Homo sapiens: one gene and its partners. The protein of the gene in region 1 interacts with the protein of each later gene in a biochemical or structural test. Each region holds a gene or a part of one and is shown in the gene's direction. Other genes may lie near its edges.

Region 1 (6,321 bases):
CATTTCTTTTGCTCTTTTAAAATTTGTTTATTTTTTACACACAGGCTCTTGATCTGAAGCCCAGGCTAGAGTGCAGTGGTACAATCATAGCTCACTGTAACCTTGAACTCCTGGGCTCAAGCAATCCTCCCACCTCAGCCTCCCAAGTAGCTAGGACTACAGGCATGTACCACCATGCCCTGCTAACTTCTAAATTTTTTGTAGAGACAAGGTCTGGGTGTGTTGCCCAGGCCGGTCTCGAACTCTTGGCCTCAAGTGATTCTCCTGCCTCAGCCTCTCAAAGTGCTGGGATTACAGGGTTTAGCAACCGCACCCGGCCACTCCTCCATTTCTGTGCAGTGCCTTTCCTCAAAATTTCCCATCCCCATCAAGTTAATTTGGGAGAGAGCCAAGAATTCTTCGGGCACATAGGGGTGAGTCCCTCTACCCACCCTCAGTCCTCACCCCAAGTTGCCCCTGGCACAGAATTCCTTCGACAATCCTGAGTGGTTTTATCGGCATGTGGAAGCACACAGTCTGTGCTGTGAATACGAAGCAGTCGGCAAGGACAACCCGGTGGTGCTGTGTGGCTGGAAAGGTAGGGCTGCTTCTTAACTTGTGGCTTCTGGAGGAAACGCTGGGGTTCCTGAAGAGCTGGGACAGAAAGGGATAGGGGTCCTACAGGGGCAAGGTTGACTGCCGGCTGGAGAGACTCAGGGGTACCAGATCCTAGGCAAAACTGGGGTTTTGTGGCAGGAGACTGATAGGGCTTCCTTCCCAGGCTGTACCTGCACCTTCAAGGACCGCAGTAAACTTCGAGAGCACCTCCGCAGCCATACCCAGGAGAAAGTGGTAGCCTGCCCCACCTGTGGGGGCATGTTTGCCAACAATACCAAGTTCTTAGATCACATCCGTCGCCAGACCTCATTGGATCGTAAGTAGTCAGAGGAAGTGGGGTGGATGCAGGCTGTCCTGCTTGGAATGGGTTAGGGGCATGTTTCTAGTGGGGGTGGCCACTGAAGAGACCTGCCTTTTGGCTGCCTCTTCTTTTTGGGCTCAGGCACCTCCCATAGTCTCTTTGCTGATTCAGATTCGTAGGCATTGTTATTCAGTACTTACTGTACCTCGTATCAGTTACTTAGGGAATCCTCACAACAGCCCCATGAGGTAGGCTTCTTATCCCCCTTTTTGCAGATGAGGAAACTGAGGCTCAGAGAGGTTAAATCACTTACCTGAGATCACACAGCTAGTAAGTGGTGAAGCTGGAATTCTAACTCAGGTTCTCTAAGTCCCATGCTCTTTCCATGATACTGTGTCCATTCATAGCTCCCTAAGCTCTCCTTTTCTCCTTGGGTGGTTCCCTTCTGCCTGGGATGGTTCCCCTCTCCTTTCTGTGCCTCTCCACTATCACCTACAGCCCTCCTTTCTTCTGCCTGCCCCACCCCAGAGCAGCACTTCCAGTGTTCTCACTGTTCCAAGAGATTTGCCACAGAGCGGCTATTGCGGGACCACATGCGCAACCATGGTGAGTGGCCTGCGGCCCACAGCCTCCCTCCTGCCCTCCAAGGTTCCACAAGTTCTCACATCACAGCCTCCTCTCTGCTTCTCTCAGTGAATCACTATAAGTGCCCTCTGTGTGACATGACCTGCCCGCTGCCTTCCTCCCTCCGCAACCACATGCGCTTTCGTCACAGTGAGGACCGGCCCTTTAAATGTGACTGTTGTGACTACAGGTAAGGGGGACCAGGGACCAGAAAACAGCTCATGTTCCAGTGTTCCCCATGTCCTCCAATCCCTCCTGATTTCTCATGGCAGCTGCAAGAATCTTATTGACCTCCAGAAGCACCTGGATACCCACAGCGAGGAGCCAGCCTACAGGTGTGATTTTGAGAACTGCACCTTCAGTGCCCGATCCCTCTGCTCTATCAAGTCCCATTACCGCAAAGTACATGAAGTGAGTGGGGCTGGTGTTGGGAAGGACTAGTGGAAGTATGGGGGACCCTGGGGTGAAGAGCTGGTCTCATTTCTCCCTTCCTTCCCCATCAGGGAGACTCTGAGCCAAGGTACAAATGTCATGTGTGTGACAAATGCTTCACACGGGGCAACAACCTCACCGTGCACCTTCGCAAGAAGCACCAGTTCAAGTGGCCCTCAGGGCATCCCCGTTTTCGGTATGTCTCTCAACCCTCCTTCCCAGATTAACACACTTGTTTTTATACCTTTTCAACCAGTTTTAAAAACCTTAATTTGGGTCGGGCGCGGTGGCTCACGCCTGTAATCCCAGCACTTTGGGAGGCCAAGGTGGGCGGATCATGAGGTCAGGAGTTCGAGACCAGCCTGGCCAACATGGTGAAACCCCGTCTCTACTAAAAATACAAAAAGTAGCTGAGCATGGTGGCACATGCCTGTAGTCCCAGCTACTTGGGAGGCTGAGGTGGGAGAATCACTTGAACCCAGAAGGCGGAGGTTGTAGTGAGCTGAGATCATGCCACTGCACTCCAACCTGGGTGACAGAGCGAGACTCCATCTCAAAAATAAATAAATAAATAAATAAAACCTTAATTTGATGGTGGTTTTATGTCTGCCATTTCCATTTAGATTCAAAGAATCCTAAGAATAATGGTGGAGCAAAGCTTATTTTTCTGTTTTTTGAATCTTGTAAGGCATGGTGCCAAACCCAATAAATGGTGCCAAAAAGTCCTGCAGCTGGAACTAGAGCTAGAGTCTAAGGGTTCTGATCCTTAGCTCCAAGGCCTTCTCATAAATCCTTTGACACTTTCACCCTCCAACACAGTCAGTCAGTCTCTGTTTTTCTGGTTGGGTTTCTATATAAAACTTTCCATTTTGAGTAATGATCTTTCCCTCTTGCCTTTTCTTCTACATATTCCAATAAAGACCTTTTTTGTCTTCAACTCCTGTCACTTGGATTCCAGGACTTCTTCCATCCCTCATGTTTGTTCCTTACTTTGCCAGCCTCGGCCATTTCTGTATCCCCCTGCCTGGGTTTGCTGCCCTTTATGCTCCTACCTCACCAGGTACAAGGAACATGAAGATGGCTATATGCGGCTGCAGCTGGTTCGCTACGAGAGTGTAGAGCTGACACAGCAACTGCTGCGGCAACCACAAGAGGGATCGGGCCTGGGAACGTCGCTGAACGAGAGCAGCCTGCAGGGCATTATTCTAGAAACAGTGCCAGGGGAGCCAGGACGTAAGGAAGAGGAAGAGGAGGGCAAGGGTAGCGAAGGGACAGCCCTCTCAGCCTCTCAGGACAACCCCAGTTCTGTCATCCACGTGGTGAATCAGACCAATGCCCAAGGCCAGCAAGAGATCGTCTACTATGTGCTGTCTGAAGCCCCAGGGGAGCCTCCCCCAGCCCCTGAGCCACCTTCAGGGGGCATCATGGAAAAGCTTCAAGGAATAGCTGAGGAGCCAGAGATCCAGATGGTTTGAAGGCCGCAGAGCCAGACCATTTCTTCCCCAGGTCCTGAAGTTTGAGCCAGGCAAGTGGCAGTGCCCCTAGTGGGCAGCCGTTGCCAATGGATGCCTTTAGGAGTGGTGCCGAGAGCAGTGTGGTCCACTCTGGCCTGGGTTTGCATCATTCTGCAGACTCTAAAGACTTCCCTTTTCTGCCAGACTACATTTTGTGGGGAGCCTGAGGACTCTGGATTCTTTGAGGGGATCCTGGATGTGTGTGTTCTTGTTAAAGAGGCTGTTATCAGGCTTAACCATAACCCTCAAGATCTGCTTGACAGTGATTAAATCCTTAGCTCACATCCATTCCCATCTTTCGGGCTCCTTAGGCCCAAGGATGGCATGTGACTGGTCCCTGCAAGGGTCCTTTCTTTGTCACCAGCCAAGGCATTGATAACCAAGTAGCCATTTTCCTCTTAAGGTTTCCTCTACAACCCCAAGGACTTTCATGATTATCCTCAGGGACAGGATTGGAGGCATTGAGCGTGTTTATTAACAAATTGTTTTTGGTAATAAAATAAATGCTTGGACTCTTATTTATTTCTTCTTACATTTGGTGGCAGTTTACTAGGTAATGAGGAGATACAGCCACCCAGAAGAGGAGCTGAATAGTTAGGCTTGTTCCCCTTCTGGTGACTCAGGTGGTTTGTTTTTTGTTTGCTTAACTGTCCTGTTGTCTTCTCCTCCTCCCCTTGGTGAAACTTCGCTATTCTCAGAGCGTATGCCATTTCCATGGAGGTCCCAGGTGTTTGGCTGTGAGTGGGCAGTAGTGGTGCTATAGAATGAACAAGAATGGGCTCACTGGGAGGATAGGGCAGCTGACCATGGCCTCACTCTGAATACTGATTAGAACCCAGTGCCTCTAGGGTAGGGGTTCTTTACCTGGGAGTGGGAAGGAAGCTGGGGGGTGGAGAGGATTGGGAAGCCTCCCAGGGAAGGGAGGCAATCAAGTGGTCCAGGAACCAAACTAGAAAATTGTGTGTCTGAATGTGCATTTTCCTGGGGAAAGGATCTGTTTTTTGCTAGATTATCAAAGAGATTGAAACCTCCCAAAATAAGAATCATCATTTCGTCTGGTTCAGCTGCTTCTCAGCACCCTGTGTCCATTTTTATGGTCTACTGCTATGCTGGAGAGGTCAAGGAAATAGTCTTGGGGACAGGAAGCTGCCCAAAAAGGATCTCTGGGCCTTTTTTTGTAAGACCTAATTCTATTACTAGAAAAACTAAGGCTGAATGCAGTGGTTCACGCCTGTAATCCCAACACTTTGGGAGGCTGAGGCGGGCGGATCACAAGGTCAAGAGATGGAGACCATCCTGGCCAACATGGTGAAACCCCGTCTCTACTAAAAATATAAAAATCAGCTGGGCATGGTGGCACACATCTGTAGTCCCAGCTACTCGGGAGGCTGAGGCAGGAGAATTGCTTGAACCCGGGAGGCTGAGGTTGCAGTGAGCCGAGATCATGCCACTGCACTCCAGCCTGGCGACACAGTGAGACTCCGTCTCAAATAAATAAATAAATAAAGAAAGAAAAGAAAAACTGTGTGTGTCTATTTGTGGAAAGAAAAAGATCTCTTCATTAATCCCATCAGCCATTTATTGAGTTCCTACTATAGTCCAGGCACAGGTGCTAAGGATACAAAGATGAATAAAACCCAGGACCTTCCCTGGAGGGACTTGCAATGCAGAAGCAAGGAAAGACTAGGTAAGCTGAGTGATAGAAGTTAATCAGGGTACATTTAGAAGGCTCCAAATAGGAGTAATGGTACTACCTGGGCAAGGGATCAGGAAAGGTTTCATCCAGGAAGAGACCTTCCACCTAACCAAGACTAGATGAAGACTTTAAAGGTTCTAAACTCTGAAAAGATTGTGGTGTCCCATTTTTCATATGTAATCAGAATGAAAATATTAAGCCATGAAACATTTAAAGTTCAACATGATTATACTTAAAACATATATTGTATATAGATTAACTATCAAATTCTGTTTCTAATTTTTTCTTTTATTTTTCAGTTCCCCAGTTTTGCTGGTGTCTAAGCACTGGCGTGGGGTGTCCCTTGAGTAATGCAGCACTAATGACTCTATCCATTCTTCCATGAGCAGTGTCTTCGGGAGCAGGCCAGCATTCTATGAAAAGGACCTTCCCTACTAGTCTTCTCAGTCATGCCCACACCAAATCGCATTGCTCTATCTGGACCATGGAGACAGCAGAAGAGATTCTGGTCTGTTACCATGTGATTCCATTCCCTAGGAGGAGGGGTGACTTGGGATCCTGGACTCAGTATGCATGGCTTAGAAAGTACTGGACCAGGAGTGAGGGGTCACTGTTGAGTAGTCTAGGCAGCCAGAGGCCTCTGGAAGGATACTAAAGGCTGTGGTGGGTGACAGTGGGCTCCTGGAGGGAGGAGGGTGATGATACTAATTTGGTTACCTTAGAATTTCACCTAGAGTCAACCCTGGTCCCAGCATCATGGTGTCTGAAGATTAAGGAGACACCCTGTCTTAGTCTTCCTTAAAGGGGGTAGGGATAGGAGAGAAGGCAGGTGGCCCAGGAGTTGGAAGCAGATAACTTCTTTTCTCTTATTTGTGGCAAGTCCACAACCACAGAGGACTTAGAAGAACTGGGTGGATATAAAAAAGTGTCAACTATGGCCGGGTATGGTGGCTCACGCCTGTAATCCTAGCACTTTGGGAGGCCGAGGTGGGCGGATCACTTGAGGTCAGGAGTTCCAGACCAGTCTGGCCAACATGGGGAAACCCTGTCTCTACTAAAAATACAAAAATTAGTTGGGCATGGTGGCACATGCTTGTAGTCTCAGCTACTCAGGAGGCTGAGGCAGGAGAATTGCTTGAATCTGGGAGGCAGAGGTT
Region 2 (8,441 bases), on another chromosome or scaffold:
TACAAGATGATGCTGAGGATAAGACAAGTGGTTTTGAGAGAGGAAAACCTTTAAAAATATTTGGAAGAGTCCTGAAGACCAATAAAATAAAGACACTGCAATACTTCATGGACACCAGAGAGCAATTTAACACTGAAATGAAAGCAACATGTTGCACCTGAACACTGAAAAAAGCCCATGTGTTAAGAGGAAGAAGAAATATGCAATTCACTGCAATAAATATTGAACCTTTAAAAAACAGAAGGAACATGAAAACTAAAGGACACTGGGCCACAGCAAATAAGGTGGCGGCAGCCATCCCATAATGATTACATGATCTCCATGATTGTAAAATGTATATGCCACCTGAATTTATTCTTAGACCTTCTCTCAAAGATGTCTGCATTCAACACAGGCAATAACTGCAGGTAATAGTGAAGAATCCTTCAGGCATGATAGAGGAACAGACTAAGTGTGGGAAAAGGAAGAACTAGGCCGGGCGCGGTGGCTCACGCCTGTAATCCCAGCACTTTGGGAGGCCGAGGCGGGCGGATCACGAGGTCAGGAGATCGAGACCATCCCGGCTAAAACGGTGAAACCCCGTCTCTACTAAAAATACAAAAAATTAGCCGGGCGTAGTGGCGGGCGCCTGTAGTCCCAGCTACTTGGGAGGCTGAGGCAGGAGAATGGCGGGAACCCGGGAGGCGGAGCTTGCAGTGAGCCGAGATCCCGCCACTGCACTCCAGCCTGGGCGACAGAGCGAGACTCCGTCTCAAAAAAAAAAAAAAAAAAAAAGGAAGAACTAGTCAAAATTGCTAATAAGGCCGGGTGCGGTGGCTCATGTCTGTAATCCCAGCACTTTGGGAGGCTGAGGCAGGCCGATCACCTAAGGTCAGGATTTTGAGACCAGCCTGATCAATAGGATGAAACCCCATCTCTACCCAAAATACAAAAATTAGCTGGGCGTGGTGGCATATGCCTATAGTCCCAGTGACTCGGGAGGGTGAGGCAGGAGAATTGCTTGAACCCAGGAGGTGGAGGTTGCAGTGAGCCGAGATCATGCCCATTGCACTCCAGCCTAGGCAACAGAGCGAGACTCCATCTCAACAACAACAAACAACAACAATAACAGCAAAAACTGCTAATAAAAATTTTAACGAGAATATTTCAGGAAGTGAATGAGTTGTGTTCATCTTCAAATGTGTGAAAAATTATTCAGTGAAAAGATGGGCAGCTTAGTCTTATGTTGCTCTAGACACTATCATCAGGAGCATTGGGTACAAATAGGAAAACAATCAGAGCAGTACATACAGGGAATGTGTATTCTGCAGTCAACATAATTGTTGGAGTTGTTAGAGAGGTTACTAGTGTGTGGAGAGAAGTATGACGAAAGTCCAGTCATGAAGAGTTTTGTTTTGTTTTAGCAGAGATGACTAAGTGATAAGAAATTCATTTGATGCCTGTGTAATGGGGCATTTTGCTATAATGTAAGCTGTTATAATCAGACTTTTCTTGTTCATAGATTGGCAAAGCATCATATTGGATATCTTAGATTACTGACATCTTAAAAAATTAATCAGCCTAATATTTTTAAATGCATTTCTTTTTGAGTTTACTTTTAGTTGAATTTTGAGATTTGTTTCAATCATTATTGGAATTTTGTAGATGTCTTCTGATTTCCCTAGGGAATGCCTTTGTGTCCAAGAACAAGAAACATAACCAATAAAGAACAATACATCCGTAGTTTTCCTATATTAGTAGAAACTATTTAAAGGAGATGAAAATGGAAAGAAGATCATGAAAAAAATAAAACTCCAAAAATGGAGCTACAAAACCGACTTGTAGGTCCAAGATCAATGAAAGTAGAATACGGAAGTCTGGAAGGAACTATACATTGTCCCTGACTTACGTAACAGAGAAGAAAGTTGGGAAGAAAAGTGTGGGCAACCTCCCCACAAGAGACCAGATTAAAAGCCAGGAAGAAGTCTGGGCACGGTGGTTCACGCCTGTAAACCCAGCACTTTGGGAGGCCGAGGCGGACGGATTGCTTGAGGTCAGGCGTTCGAGACCAGCTGGCCAACATGTGAAAACCTGATTCTACTAAAATTACTATATATATATATATATATATAGTAATATATATACTAATTATATATAGTATATATACTCTATATATAATTGTTATATATAGTATATATACTATATATAATTACTATATATACAGTATACTATATATATACACACATACTATATACTATATATAGAGACAGTATACTATATATATACACACATATATATACATATATACATATATATAGCGACAGTATACTATATATATACACACACACACACACACACATACATATATATACACACACACATAATATATATATATATATAAACTGTGCGTGGTGGCTCACACCTGTAGTCCTAGCTACTCAGGGGGCCGAGGCAGGAGAATTGCTTGAACTCAGGAGCCAGAGGTTGCAGTGAGCCAAGACTGTGCCACTGCACTCCAGCCTGGGTGACAGAGTGAGACTCAGTCTCAAAAAAAAAAAAGTGAAACCCCATCTCCACTAAAAATACAAAAAAAAAAAATAGCTGGGCTTAGCAGCAGACACCTGTAATCCCAGCTACTTGGGAGGCTGAGGCAGGAGAATCGCTTGAACCTGGGAGGCGGAGGTTGCAGTAAGCAGAGATTGCACCACTGCACTCCAGCCCGGGGGACAGAGTGAGACTTCATCTCAAAAAAGAAAAACAACAACAGCAACAACAGAAAAGAAGTAACTCAAAATGTTTCAAAGAAGTAACTCAAAATGTTTTTCTTTCTTTCTTCCTTTTTCTTCTCTCTTTCTTTCTTTTTCTCCTCTCTTTTTCTTCTCTCTCTCTTTCTTTCTTTCTTTTTCTTTCTTTCTTTCCTTCGTTCTTTCTTTCTGTCTCTCTCTCTTTTCTATTTTTTTTTTTTGATGGAGTCTCGCTCTGTTGCCCAGGCTGAAGCGCAGTGGCGTGACCTTGGCTTACTGCAACCACTGCCTCCCGGGTTCAAGTGATTCTCCTGCCTCAGCCTTCCGAGTAGCTGGGACTACAGGCGTGTGCCACTACACCCGACTAATTTTTGTATTTTTAGTAGAGATGGGGTTTCACCATATTGGTCAGTCTGGTCTTGAATTCCTGACCTCATGATCCACCCACCTTGGCCTCCCAAAGTGCTGGGATTACAAGCATGAGCCCCTGCGCCTGGCCTAGCACCTTCTAGTTCTAATTAGGCTGCATCCATGAGGGTGGAAGAACTGTCTCTGGAAACAAGCAGTAATTAGGATGAGAAAAGTTGTGTTTTATGGGGTTATGCAGTGGTGGGCTTTGTTTGATCGTTTAATGGGGGAAAACATGGAAACTCATGCCCCCTAAAACGTTTATATAATAGTATCCCCGCACTGAATTTTTCTACGTCAGACTTGGCCCATACAATTTAGAGTTGCTGTCCTGTGCTTTTATGTTGCTTTCCCAGTTTCTCTATTTCCATCAGCAGCTGATATCTTTGTAGTTGCTCTAGAGCAGAGGGCTCAGTCTTTTCAATCTTGTGGTCCCTTTACACTCTTAAGAATTATTGAGAACCACCAGGAATTTTTGTTAATGTGGATGGGTTATATCTAGCTATATTTATATATTTTAAGTTAAGGCTAAGGAATTTAAAAATATTCATTTATTGATTCATTTTAAGATAGTGATGCACCTATTTCATGCTAACACCAATAACTTATTTTTATGGAAAAAAAACAACAAAATGAAAACAGCGCTTTAGTTCACATTTTTGCAAATCTCTGTAATACCTGGTTGAAACGGAGACAGTGGGAGTCTCCTCACTGCTTCTGCATTTGCAGAACCACACCCCACACTCTTGGGAGCATGAGAATGAGAAGGGCAAGTAACACAGAGGGTCATTAGATAAATGGTTTTGACCTTATGGACTCTCTGAAAGGAATAGGAAGTCCTCAGGGGTCCCCTGCATCGAGGCCTCCCTGATCAAGGGAGCCAAGCTCCAAGGGTTGCTGGGGAGCTGGAGGAGGTGAGATGGGGCAGAGAGGCCGTTGTCACCAAAAGCGTGTTTAGGCTCCATTCACTTCACCCCAGGTGGCCTACTGAGCCCACATGGCCACCAGCGCAACTGAAGCAGACCCCGATAGAATCCTGTGTAGAATTATTTTAGGATTCACCCATCTTGGCATGCACAAGCCATTTCAATTGAAGAATGTTTTCTAATAACAAAACATTGTAAACCTAAGTATGTGGCAATAGTAATGATTAAGTAAATTATGGTTTCCCGAAGCCCAGTGCTCTGCAGCCATCAGAGAGTAAAAGCGAGAATGTGTTCAGTGGAGATAGCCTCAGGATATTTAAAAGCAGAGAGCACAAAGTATAGAATCGTGTTGTGTATGTTATGACCTTTTTTTCTGTGCTTTTGAAAAAGAGAATACACGTATAGCAGGAAAAGACACACCAAACTACTTTATATAATTGGTTGTTTTTGTGTTTGGTAAGATGTATGCACTGAAGAGGAAGGTTTCGATTTTTTTTTTTTTTTTTTTTTTTTTTTTGAGACAGGGCTTTGCTCTGTCGCCCAGGCTGGAGTGCAGTGGCGCGATCTCAGCTCACTGCAGCCTCGACCGCCCCGGCTCAAGCGATCCTCCCACCTCAGCTGTCCCAGTAGCTAGAACTACAGGGGCGCCACCACGCCTGGCGAATTTTTTGTAGAGATGGGTTCTCTCCAGGTGGCCCAGGCTGGTTCTGAACTCCCGGGCTCAAGGGATCTTCCTGCTTCAGCTTCCCAAAGTGCGGGGATTACCGGCGTGAGCCACCGCGTCCCGCCTGTTTTTAATTTTTAGCAGTTTTAAATCTTCTGGCAATGAGTAATGTTATAGTGTCCCAGATGTTTGGTCCTTTAAGAAAAGGATAGCAGGACGGGTTATCTCGGTGGGAGCGTGTTCCACCTCTGCCCTCCGCCAGCCGCCCTCGCCGGGGATGCACCCAGGTATTTTCCTCCGGATGCGTGAGTGGCTCGCCCGCGGACACGCCAGCCCCGCCCCGCGAGCCCGGTTTCCCCGCCCCCTCCCCGCCCACGCCCTGCGCTCCCTTCCTATTGGTCCCATGCCGCGCTTTCCCGTTCAATCGCAGCGCTTAGCGCCAGAATTTGAATCTTCGTTTTCGTTTGAATTGGGCGGGCGCGCCGGGCTGGAAGAAGGAAGTGGAGGGCTGACGCTGCGGGCGGGCGGGCGGGCGGGAGGACTCGACTCGGTGGGAGCCGCTAGAGCCGGGCGCCCGGGGACGTAGCCTGTAGGGCCACCGGGTCCCCGTCAGAGGCGGCGGCGGGAGCAGCGGGGACTGCAGGCCGGGGTGCAGCGAACGCGACCCCGCGGGCTGCGGCCCGGTGTGTGCGGAGCGTGGCGGGCGCAGCTTACCGGGCGGAGGTGAGCGCGGCGCCGGCTCCTCCTGCGGCGGACTTTGGGTGCGACTTGACGAGCGGTGGTTCGACAAGTGGCCTTGCGGGCCGGATCGTCCCAGGTGAGCTGCGGCCGGGACTCCTGGGAGCTGTCCGGGGTCGAGGGCTGAGCCGCGGGGACCCCCCGAGCTCTGCGGGGACGGGCAGGGGACAGACGCGCGGCCTGGGCCCGACTCCTCCTGGGCTCTGGCGAGGGCGTCTCGGTGGAAGCTCCCAGGAGGCGCAGGCGCTGGCGACAACACCCCAGCTGCCGGACTTTGGGGCGCCGGGGGCTGCGGTCGGATCGTCCTGGGGTCCCCGCTAGCTAGCTGCGGTGTGCGCTTCTGTGGCCGGGGATAGGTGAATTGGGCACGGGGCCCTTCTTAGCTCCTTTGCTATCAGAGTAACTCGCACCTCTTTTGCAGTGGAAGAGTTGTAAATTTGCTTCTGGCCTTCCCCTACGGATTATACCTGGCCTTCCCCTACGGATTATACTCAACTTACTGTTTAGAAAATGTGGCCCACGAGACGCCTGGTTACTATCAAAAGGAGCGGGGTCGACGGTCCCCACTTTCCCCTGAGCCTCAGCACCTGCTTGTTTGGAAGGTGAGCCCCGCGGGCGCGCGCGGACGTTTTAGCTGAGAAAGAGGAAAATACCTTAGTCACAGAATAAAGTCCAGAAACGCGCTCTAGGATTGGGTCCTGCCGTCACTTTTCCTTGGTGCTTCTCCCATTCGTTACTAAGTTGACATAGTTGTGTTTTTTTGTTTTGTAAGTATAAATTTGATGCTAGTTTGTATGTTTAAGTGGTTTTAAAAATCAAGCCAATTAAAAAAATCGATTTGCTAATGTTGCGGTAAAGAAAGATGTAGATGATCTTCATATGTCACTGGCTGCAGGCAGGCGTCTGAAGACACTGTGCGCCCCCGGGTGCCTCCACAGTGGGCATCCCTGGCCACTGGGGACACAGAGAATGAAGGAAGGAAGCCATACACTTGTCTCTTGGCTCCTTGTGGCAATAGGAAAATGGGACAGAAAGTCTTCCTGCCTGGAATTCGAGAACGTTTCCTCTTATATTGCTGTCCTGTTTGGTGGTGGTAATAACCCTGTCCCTGTATAACAGGTATAGTTGCTGACAGTGCCCCATCAGCCTCTGACATGTGTCCCACTAGAGGCCTGAGAAGGGGGGTCATTTCCCGTGTGGTCATTTCCCAGACCACACGGGATTCAGGCCTCACCCTGTCCTCCCAACCCCATCCCGGCCTCACCCTGTCCTCCCAACCCCATCCCCTACCTTGTTCCTCCCGCCTAAGGCATTCCAAGCCTTTGTTCACCTTGGTACTTCTTACACACTTGGAAGTTTACAATGGGAAAGTTCTCCCCTTCCTCAAGCTTGTGTGATTTCCATCATTCAGGCATCAGGTGAAATGTCACCTCTGAGGAAGCCTTGCATGAAAACTTGTATTTCCAACCCCACAGCTTCAGGGGTGAGTTGTGGGTTTGTCTCCCACTAGGCTGAGCTCCCCAAAGGCAAAGACTGTCTTGTTACTAATCACGTGTGTAGGGCCAGGGATGGTGTCTGGCATAGGGGGTGTGATCAATACCTAGCATTCTGGCAAGGGTCAGTAGAAACATGGGCTGGAGCCATGGATTTGCAATCTCTTGAGAACAGTGGTTCTCACAGGAGGGTCATCTAACCTTCCAGGATTCATTTGAATTTCCATGTCACAATATAGGACAGGGGCATGCGCTGTCATCGCGGAGGAGAGGTCAGGGTGGGCATCCTACCAGGCTCAGGGCAGCCCCCACAATACAGAAGCATCTGGCCCAAGATGTCAACAGTGCCAAAGCTCAGAAACACCCATCTATAGTCGTCCTCCTGCCAAACAAATTCTCAGTTGTAAGGGATAGTCTTTCCTTTGCTCTGATGTCCTGTTACCTTAAAATCAAATTATTTTATTGGGGTTAAGGAAGCTTTTCACTTTCCATAGATACCTTTCTCTTGAAAAGGAAAAATATAAACATTTCATCTCCAGTGGCAGTCCTTTTGCTTTTTTATACAGTACTCCTTGAATATATCTTCATGCAAGATTTTATAATTTAGAAATAATTCCTAAGTGTTTGGTCACATGACCTGGGTAGGAAGAGAGATTCTTAGACTCCAAAGGTTCAGATGGAGAACAGACAGGCCATTGCATAGTTTATTCAAATTTTTAAGATCACAGGCTAGAACAGGAACACTGAAGACTCCAAGAACCTACTAACAAACTCTTCTGATTATTAGTTTGTATAGGTTTAGGAATTGTCTCTTCTGCTACTTTGCCATGGTGTTAGCTTTCTGTGGAAAAACAAGTTGAATTTAGATTTTTTTTTTGTGTCGCTTGCAAATTAGTATTTTTATTGTTTAGAGACTTGAATCTGTCAGTAAATTCAGTGTAGTTTTAAAACAACAATGAAAAGCTTACCCATAATGAGCATTTACTATGTGCTAGGCAAATTAGTGACATGTACAACCATTTAATTGAACATCACATGATGTAGGTTCTAATGTAATTTCTTTATTGTATATGAAGAAACTGATGCACAGAAGTGCTAGCATCAAATAAGCACATTTGGGGATGATTAAACCTCTAAACATATTTAACATTACAAACAAACGTTTTTGAAAAAGCACAGAGTATTAAAAATAGTCATTATCCAAAATTGATGTAAGTATTCCTTTGTGTCTTTTAAGTATAGCTTTTCATATAAAAGGTAATTCGATTTGTGTTCTAGTGTTTTCCCTTGTTTTTACATACTCTCTGTTTTAAAGATCTAATAGTTACATGTTTAATACTTCCAAAAGTTCTTTGCAAAATGCAAGATCGTTTACATTGCCCATTTTGTTTGTTACTCCTTTATGTCATATTTACAGATCAAACATTCTAGTCAAATTGTGTTTTATTTTGGGAAATTGAGGTAATCTTTTAAAAAGTTGCAGCAACCA
Region 3 (7,902 bases), on another chromosome or scaffold:
CTAACTAGCAGATTTTCTTTTCCTGAAATCGTTGTTATGATCAGGGTCTCCAGACCTTCTGTAATCACCCTACTGTGATAGCTGTACATATCACAACCATCACCATCGTTTCCAGCAATCCCTCTCCTCATAACCACTGAAAGCTCTTTATAACATTTCTGCGTACACAGAAACTAAAACTAAAACATCTAGAAAAAAGTATAGAAGATCAAGTGTTCATGAACTTGGAGCTGACAAAGTTTTCTTCGATAAATAAGACCTTGGCCACGAATTAGAAAGGAAAAGCAGCTGGTCAGTTGGACTTTGGAGAACATTTCCCAAAGAATGCAAAGATATGTTACAGAAAAAAATATTCCTAATACATCTGACGAAGGACTTGTAGCTGGGCTTTTTTTTTTTTTTTTTTTTTTTTGCGCAACAGAGTCTTGCTCTGTTGCCGAGGCTGGAGCAAGATCTCAGCTCATTGCAGCCTAAACCTCCTGGGCTCAAGCGATCCTCCTGCCTCAGCCTACCAAGTAGCTGGGACCACAGGCATGTGCCTCTATGCCCGGCTAATTTTTTTGTATTTTTTGTAGAGATGGGGTTTCGCCATGTTGCCCAGGCTAGTCTTGAATTCCTGAGCTCAAGCAGTCCTCCTGCCTTGGCCTCCTAAAGTGCTGGAATTCCAGATGTGAGCCACCGTGTCTAGCCTGGGCCGTATTTTTATTTTTTTTTTAATATCTTACAACTCAATAATACGTAGTTAAACAAAAAGACTTGAACATTTGTTTCTCAAAAGAAAATGTAAGAATGGCCAGTATGCACATGAAAAGATATTCAGTGTCTTTAGTTATTAGGGAAATACAAGTTAAAACCACTGAGATTTTACTGCACTGCCAGAATTAAAGACTGATGACACCATGTGTTGGCAAGGATGTATAGAGCAGCTGGCACCCTTATACATTGGAAAACCTTATAACCACTTTGGAAAACAGTTTGGCAGTTTCTTGTAAATGAAATATCTATTTACCATATGACACAGGATTTTCACTTGTAGCTGTTTATCCAACAGCCAGGAAAACATACATTTACACAAAGACTTACGCATGAATGTTCATAGCTGTTTTATTCATAGTTTAAAAACTGGAAGCAACCCACGTGTCTATCATACATGAAACAACGTGCCCACAATGGAATACTATCCAGCAGTAAAATGGAGCAAACTACTTATACATAAAATAACCTCAATGCCATTATACTTAGCAAAAGAAGCTAGCACAAAAGAGAATATAATTTTATACATGTATATAAAATTCTAGGACAAACAGAACTATACAAGGTTAGGGTTGGGGTGCTTGGGGCCACAGGGGGAGGCAGAGGAGTGATGGAAATGTTGTGTCTGCGTTGGAGCAGTGGTTACACAGGTGTATCATTTGTCCAAACTCATCAAACTATACACTTAAAATATGTGCAGCACAGCACATTTTATGTAAATTTTACTTTTATGAAGTGAGTTGTGTAAATTAGGCACTAATATATTTGGTTTTTCAGCTTATCTCTGAGCTGTGGATGAAGAAACTCAGCACAAGAGAGATGAAGTAATTTGCATATGATGGCACTATTAGTAAATGGTAGTCTGCATTCATTTAAAAAGATAGTCAAGTGTTTTCGTTGTGTCATTGTTTAATCTTTTTATAAGCATTCCAGCTGGGTTACATATGGCTCTTAAGATTTCTTCACCCTAGTAGCTTTTAAAATCAATATGTTAAAAACATTTTTTTAATTACTTTTATTGTTTTTGCATAGTTGCAAGCAGTGATTTTAAAACCTGTCATTGTTTTATAACACATTAATGAAAATTTAGTCATTGAAACTTGGATGTTTCAGATGATCCTCCGATTCTCCACTCCGGGTTCTAGATACGCTTTTCTGGATCTTTCAGTCTAAAGATAGAACTTTTCTTCACCCAGACTAATTTGTAGGAATTTCTTCTCCTTTGGGGTATCATTACAGCACTGACTCTGTCTTTTTCACTTTGCTTCTTTGGCTCTGTGCTTTTTACCTGTAGCTGTACCTTAATTTTCTCAGGGCTCACATGCCATCATTTTGGATATTTAATACCTTCATTTCTCTCCCTTAGACATTCCAACTCTGGCAGCTGCTTCTAAAGTATCCATGCTAAATTTCCTTTGTCTCTAAATTTAGATTTTGAGATTCACTGTTGTGCTTCTAGTTTTATTCAGCAAATACTGAATGAGCAACAACGTCTGGCACAATAATAGGTACATACTCAGTAAACATTGGACCGCTGGATTAATTATTCTGGTCTTAGTTTGGTGAATTATCTAGATGTAATATATTTCCCATCTTATGTGTTTTCATTTTAATGTGTATGTTCATCAGAGAAATTTCTGATATTTTTGTGGGGTTTTTCCTTCTCCATGCCTGATACCCAGTGTTAGTCAGAAATAGAGTTGTCATAACTCATCTGATACCTTAATGTTTCAGCATCCACCTCCAGATCGACAGGCAGTACCTGGAAGACCAGGCCCCTTTCCCTCCAAGCAGCAAGTAGCTGATGAAGATGAAATATGGAAGCAAAGACGAAGACAACAATCAGAAATTTCTGCAGCAGTAGAACGTGCTCGTAAACGGCGTGAAGAGGAAGAGCGAAGAATGGAAGAACAAAGGAAGGCAGCTTGTGCGGAGAAACTGAAACGATTGGATGAGAAGCTTGGCATCCTGGAAAAACAACCATCTCCAGAGGAAATTAGGGAAAGGGAGCGAGAAAAAGAACGGGAGCGTGAGAAAGAACTTGAAAAAGAACAAGAACAGGAGCGAGAGAAGGAGAGGGAAAAAGACAGAGAGAGACAGCAGGAAAAGGAGAAAGAGCTGGAGAAGGAGCAGGAAAAACAAAGAGAAATGGAGAAAGAAAGAAAGCAAGAAAAAGAAAAAGAACTAGAACGGCAGAAAGAAAAGGAAAAAGAACTACAAAAGATGAAAGAACAAGAAAAGGAATGTGAGCTGGAGAAGGAAAGGGAAAAATTAGAGGAGAAAATTGAACCCAGAGAACCTAATTTAGAGCCCATGGTAGAAAAACAAGAAAGTGAAAACAGCTGTAATAAAGGTTTGATAGTATTCTTCATTCTCTTTTAAAAACTTTACAAAGAGCTTTATGTTGGTTACAGTTTGGGGTTTGTATATTTTAAATATATGTAATCAATATAAAAGTGATTGTTTTATGATAGCATTTGCAGTACAAAATATGGGCTAGAGCCGTGTTTTCTAATTCTGTATATGAACAGACGTCTCTGAAGTGTTTCTCAGTTATTAGATGAGCTTCATTTCTGTTTTATCTGCAGAATTGTATTGGCTTCATAGTCACATATACTGATTCTCCCCCTGCTTTTTTCTGACTCCAAGACATTTAACTAAACAAAATCTCATTTGTTCACATGCATTAATACCTCTAAAACTGAACTGGCATAGAGCTTAATGAGTATGTTGGATTATCATAATTAAATGACTGCACCTAGTTCATAATTTCAGGTTTGCTGTTTAATCAGTTTAAACATGCAAGCTTCCATGGTGTAGTTGATATGCTATTAAACTGTAATTTCCTGGAGTAATTATACTTTAAAATAAAATTCTTTTTCTAGATCTAATCAACTTTTTTGTTCTTCTCCGAGTTGGCTTGTAGACTGATTAATGGCATTCAAATATAGTATAAAGCCTTGGCAAAGTTAAAGTTCAGGGTTTTCGTTTTTTGTTTGTTGTTGTTGTGGTGGTGGTGGTTGTTGTTGTTTTTGAGACAGAGTCTCTCTCTGTCTCCAGGCTGGAGTGCAGTGGCGGAATCTCAGCTCACTGCAAACTCCACCTCCCAGGTTCAAGTGATTCTCCTGCCCCAGCCTCCCAAGTAGCTGGGGCTACAGGCGCGTGCCACCGCACCCAGCTAATTTTTGTATTTTTAGTAGAGACGGGGTTTCACTATGTTGGCTAGCATAGCCTCAATCTCTTGACCTCGTGATCTGCCTGCCTCGGCCTCCCAAAGTACTGGGATTGTAGACGTGAGCCACCGCGCCCAGCCTAAAGTTTAGTTTTAATGAACGACTTGAATTAAAATAGAAATGCAGTTTTATTTCAGTGTATTTTCTGATGTGGAAATATTGTAAGTTTTCTAACCTGACGTCTCATGCTCTTTTCTACAAGGCACTGCTGCTTAAAATAATAAGAATGTGTTTTTAAAAATAAAGTTTTTATTTATATGCAGGGTTACCTTCAAACTTGGCTCTTAATTTAACTATAAAGGAGTATGAGTATTTTATCTTTAATTTTTTTAATGAAATAAGGCCTGTATGGACCATTTGTTAAGACTCTAAGATTTCAGATTTTTTTCATATTAATCAATCTAGAGAGACTTTGCTATTGAATAGTGGGCTTATATTACATAAGTACTTATGAAGATTGCTCATAACACCAAAATAGTGAAATAAAGTGTTCACAAGAGAAAGGAAAACATTATCATAGTTTAATAAGTTTTATTTGTGCTTTTATTTTCATTCACATTTTATATATTCTCTCTCATGGCAATTTAATTTTAGCTTGTTTATCAGTGAGATGTACCCATGTGATTTTTTTTTCCCCCCTCAATTCTGATACTAGACACATACAATTTTTTTGTTTGTTTTAATGCTCTCTGAGATGTTCTCAAGACACACGTGATTTTAAAGTCAGTGCCTATGTGGCTCTTTTTCCTCCAGTATATTATTTTCCATTCTTTTTTTTTTGGCTGTGTTGCCCAGGCTGGTCTCAAACTCCCAGGCTAAAGTGATCCTCTCACCTCAGCCTCCTGAGTTACTGTTATTACAGTCATGCACCACCATGACCTGCTCACTCTTTTACAACATTCTTAATATTGAATGTAATCCAAGCAATAAAAATGTTATTTGTGATTCTTAACAGCATGCTTTTACATTGGGAGATAAACTTCCATTTTAAATTCATTACTAGTCATTTGAGAAAAGAATTTGTAACAAGCGTGGATTTGTAATTGTGACAAATGACATTCTAGAATGAATTATGTTTGAAGATAACTAGTGATCACTCTGTTGTCTTCAGACTTAAACTCATTAGTTTTCCTTACAGATAATAGTCCCTTTACCCAATAAATAACTAAATAAACCAACATGCTCTCTTTTTAAGTATTTATAGGCCATTTGTGTTTTCATGTAGATTTTAATGAACTACCAGTAAATACTGACAATTACATTGATGTTTATTGAAACAAATAAAAAATATGTGGAGTTGGAAATGTTTCATTATTTAAAAAAAAAAAACATAGATTTTATATGATGAAGCATTTGGATCTCTGCTCTCCATCTCTAAGAATGCAGCTTTTAGGAAATCTAAGGTTTTGATAATCTAATGTTACCTCATTGATAACTACCAATGTTAAAGTAGAAAATAATGTTTTAGAGTGTCGAGGATATTTTCTTCCTCATTAACTTTTATTATACCTCAGTCTTTGTAAAAATCCTGTGTTTGATAAGTGTCATAGATGAATACTATTACCTTTCACCTTTTCTTTGAGCAGAGGAGGAACCCGTTTTCACTAGACAAGACAGCAATCGCAGTGAAAAGGAAGCCACACCAGTGGTGCATGAAACAGAACCAGAATCAGGGTCTCAACCTCGGCCGGCTGTATTATCTGGCTATTTCAAACAGTTTCAGAAGTCTTTACCTCCACGATTCCAGCGGCAGCAGGTAATGATAAAAATATTTTATCATGTATGTGTGATTGAAGTGGTTTATTATGCAGTAGTCTGGGAAATTAGACATAAAACTGATAATACGTAAAGCACACAAAGTTCCCTTGAAATTATTTTTCCTTGTAAATAAAAGTTAACGTGGGTTTTACCTTGACCTTCTGTGTCATTCCTTTTGATCTTCTGCCTCATTTATAGACACCATCTTCCATTTCTAGGAGATAGATCATACAGTGCTTGAGTATAAGGTAAAATGTTATAGTTCATCTTTCAGTTTTTTGTCTTGCCAACTCTTAACTGTTAAATACCTTTTGAACTCTTACTTTTCCTTCAAGGATTCAAAACAGGCCATTATTTTGTGATATGATTGATTATGTTAATTTGTCATGTGGAACTAAACTCTCAAGATATGGGATCTTACTTTTTCAGGAACAGATGAAACAGCAGCAGTGGCAGCAGCAGCAACAGCAAGGTGTACTTCCACAGACTGTTCCTTCACAACCGTCCAGTAGTACTGTCCCTCCTCCACCACACAGACCTCTTTATCAGCCTATGCAGCCTCATCCTCAGCATTTGGCTTCTATGGGTTTTGATCCAAGGTGGCTCATGATGCAGTCCTACATGGATCCTCGAATGATGTCAGGAAGACCTGCTATGGATATTCCACCCATTCATCCTGGTCAGTTGAATTTGCATTTATAGTTTTACAGGATCAAAATTTTTTTTTCCCTGCTTTTAGTTTCAGTTCCTTTGAGAGTTGTAATCTAGGAAAAACTTAAACCTCCGATTTTTAATCAAAATGATGTAACTTTCAGCATCGAGTAATTAAATATCTGACACTCATATTACTTATGTGGCAAGAACAAAATACTAGTTCATTTCTGTTTTGTAAGTATTATTTAAAACTTCAGATGGAAATAATTATGTGTTATTAACAGTATTTGTTATTGGCTACATTGTTGTTCTTCTTTAAAGTGTTTTCAGCGTTTGAATTTTGTCCATATGTTATATATATTCCTTTTCAAGTTCTTCTTCCATCATTTACCAACCTAACACTTGAATTTCCTTTTAGGTTAGGGGGAAAAAAAGTGAATTAGCAGTCTTTTATGGAATCCATCAGAATAAATCAAGATAATCTATTACCAAAATGTTACAGAGGAAAATTTAGGGATGATAAGCTGATCACAAATCATGTTTTGATTTTTACATTTATACTGGTATTTGGAAATTTAAGTGGCATATTTTGTAGAATATTGACCAACTAAGGTAGGTTAATGGAATTTAGGAAAGAATTTTCTCTGAAAGTTATCATAGTATAATTTTCATGATGTTTGTATTGACATCCAGAGTCACAGTACTTGGTGTCTGATTTTTATATGCATAATATTTTCTTTCTTTTGAAGTAAAACAGGCTGCTATTGTGATTTTGCTTATTTTGCTTCCTCAGTTCTTAAATGCAATTTTTATTTAACAGCAGTAATAAAATTCCATTCACAGAACAACCCTTACATAATTTCCACCAATCTTTTACTCAGGAAAAAAATGCTTTTAATATGGAGAATTCCACCTAACAATTAATAACCTGTATTCTATGTCTATCATGGTTTTGTTTCGTTCATTTTTCAAAATCCTCATTTCACCTTTTTCTGAACTTTTGTTACAGGAATGATTCCTCCTAAACCATTAATGAGAAGAGACCAGATGGAAGGGTCACCGAACAGTTCTGAGTCATTTGAGCATATAGCTCGATCTGCAAGAGATCACGCAATTTCCCTTTCTGAGCCTCGTATGCTGTGGGGGTCAGATCCCTATCCTCATGCTGAGCCTCAACAAGCAACTACTCCCAAAGCAACAGAAGAGCCTGAGGATGTAAGGTAATAAATTATTTCAATTTAATAGATGATACAGAATATTTTGGTAAAAGGAAAACTGTGTAGTGTTTCTGAAGATCATTCCAATTTAGGACTGAAGCATAAATCTGGTTTCCTTCTATTTAATTTAGCATGCTACGCTTACTCTTTGGACATATTCTCTGTATTCATTAGGGCATTTTGTAACCTGGTTCTGTACTCAATTGTATGCTGTAATTTAGTATTAGATGTTGAAATTGGTAGGTTCTTTTTTGAGATAGGAACTTGCTCTGTTATTCAGGCTGGAG

The links.
Region 2: the proteins of HINFP (region 1) and MKI67 form a complex in vitro, tested with the Homo sapiens proteins (one study listed by BioGRID).
Region 3: the proteins of HINFP (region 1) and PRRC2C form a complex in vitro, tested with the Homo sapiens proteins (one study listed by BioGRID).

Annotation. Positions count from the first base shown.
Region 1 is NC_000011.10:119,131,070-119,137,390, forward strand, and holds the end of HINFP (histone H4 transcription factor), read left to right. Parts: intron 1-465; coding exon 466-577; intron 578-760; coding exon 761-913; intron 914-1,173; exon of another isoform or gene 1,174-1,228; intron 1,229-1,426; coding exon 1,427-1,504; intron 1,505-1,591; coding exon 1,592-1,712; intron 1,713-1,794; coding exon 1,795-1,933; intron 1,934-2,025; coding exon 2,026-2,150; intron 2,151-2,874; coding exon of another isoform or gene 2,875-3,014; coding exon 3,015-3,429; 3' UTR 3,430-4,990; downstream 4,991-6,321. UniProt on the Homo sapiens protein: Transcriptional repressor that binds to the consensus sequence 5'-CGGACGTT-3' and to the RB1 promoter. Transcriptional activator that promotes histone H4 gene transcription at the G1/S phase transition in conjunction with NPAT.
Region 2 is NC_000010.11:128,123,196-128,131,636, reverse strand, and holds the start of MKI67 (proliferation marker protein Ki-67), read left to right. Parts: upstream 1-5,213; 5' UTR 5,214-5,538; intron 5,539-5,880; 5' UTR 5,881-5,969; coding exon 5,970-6,061; intron 6,062-8,441. UniProt on the Homo sapiens protein: Protein that associates with the surface of mitotic chromosomes and acts both as a chromosome repellent during early mitosis and chromosome attractant during late mitosis.
Region 3 is NC_000001.11:171,529,856-171,537,757, forward strand, and holds part of PRRC2C (protein PRRC2C), read left to right. Parts: intron 1-2,487; coding exon 2,488-3,106; intron 3,107-5,572; coding exon 5,573-5,742; intron 5,743-6,173; coding exon 6,174-6,423; intron 6,424-7,407; coding exon 7,408-7,618; intron 7,619-7,902. UniProt on the Homo sapiens protein: Required for efficient formation of stress granules.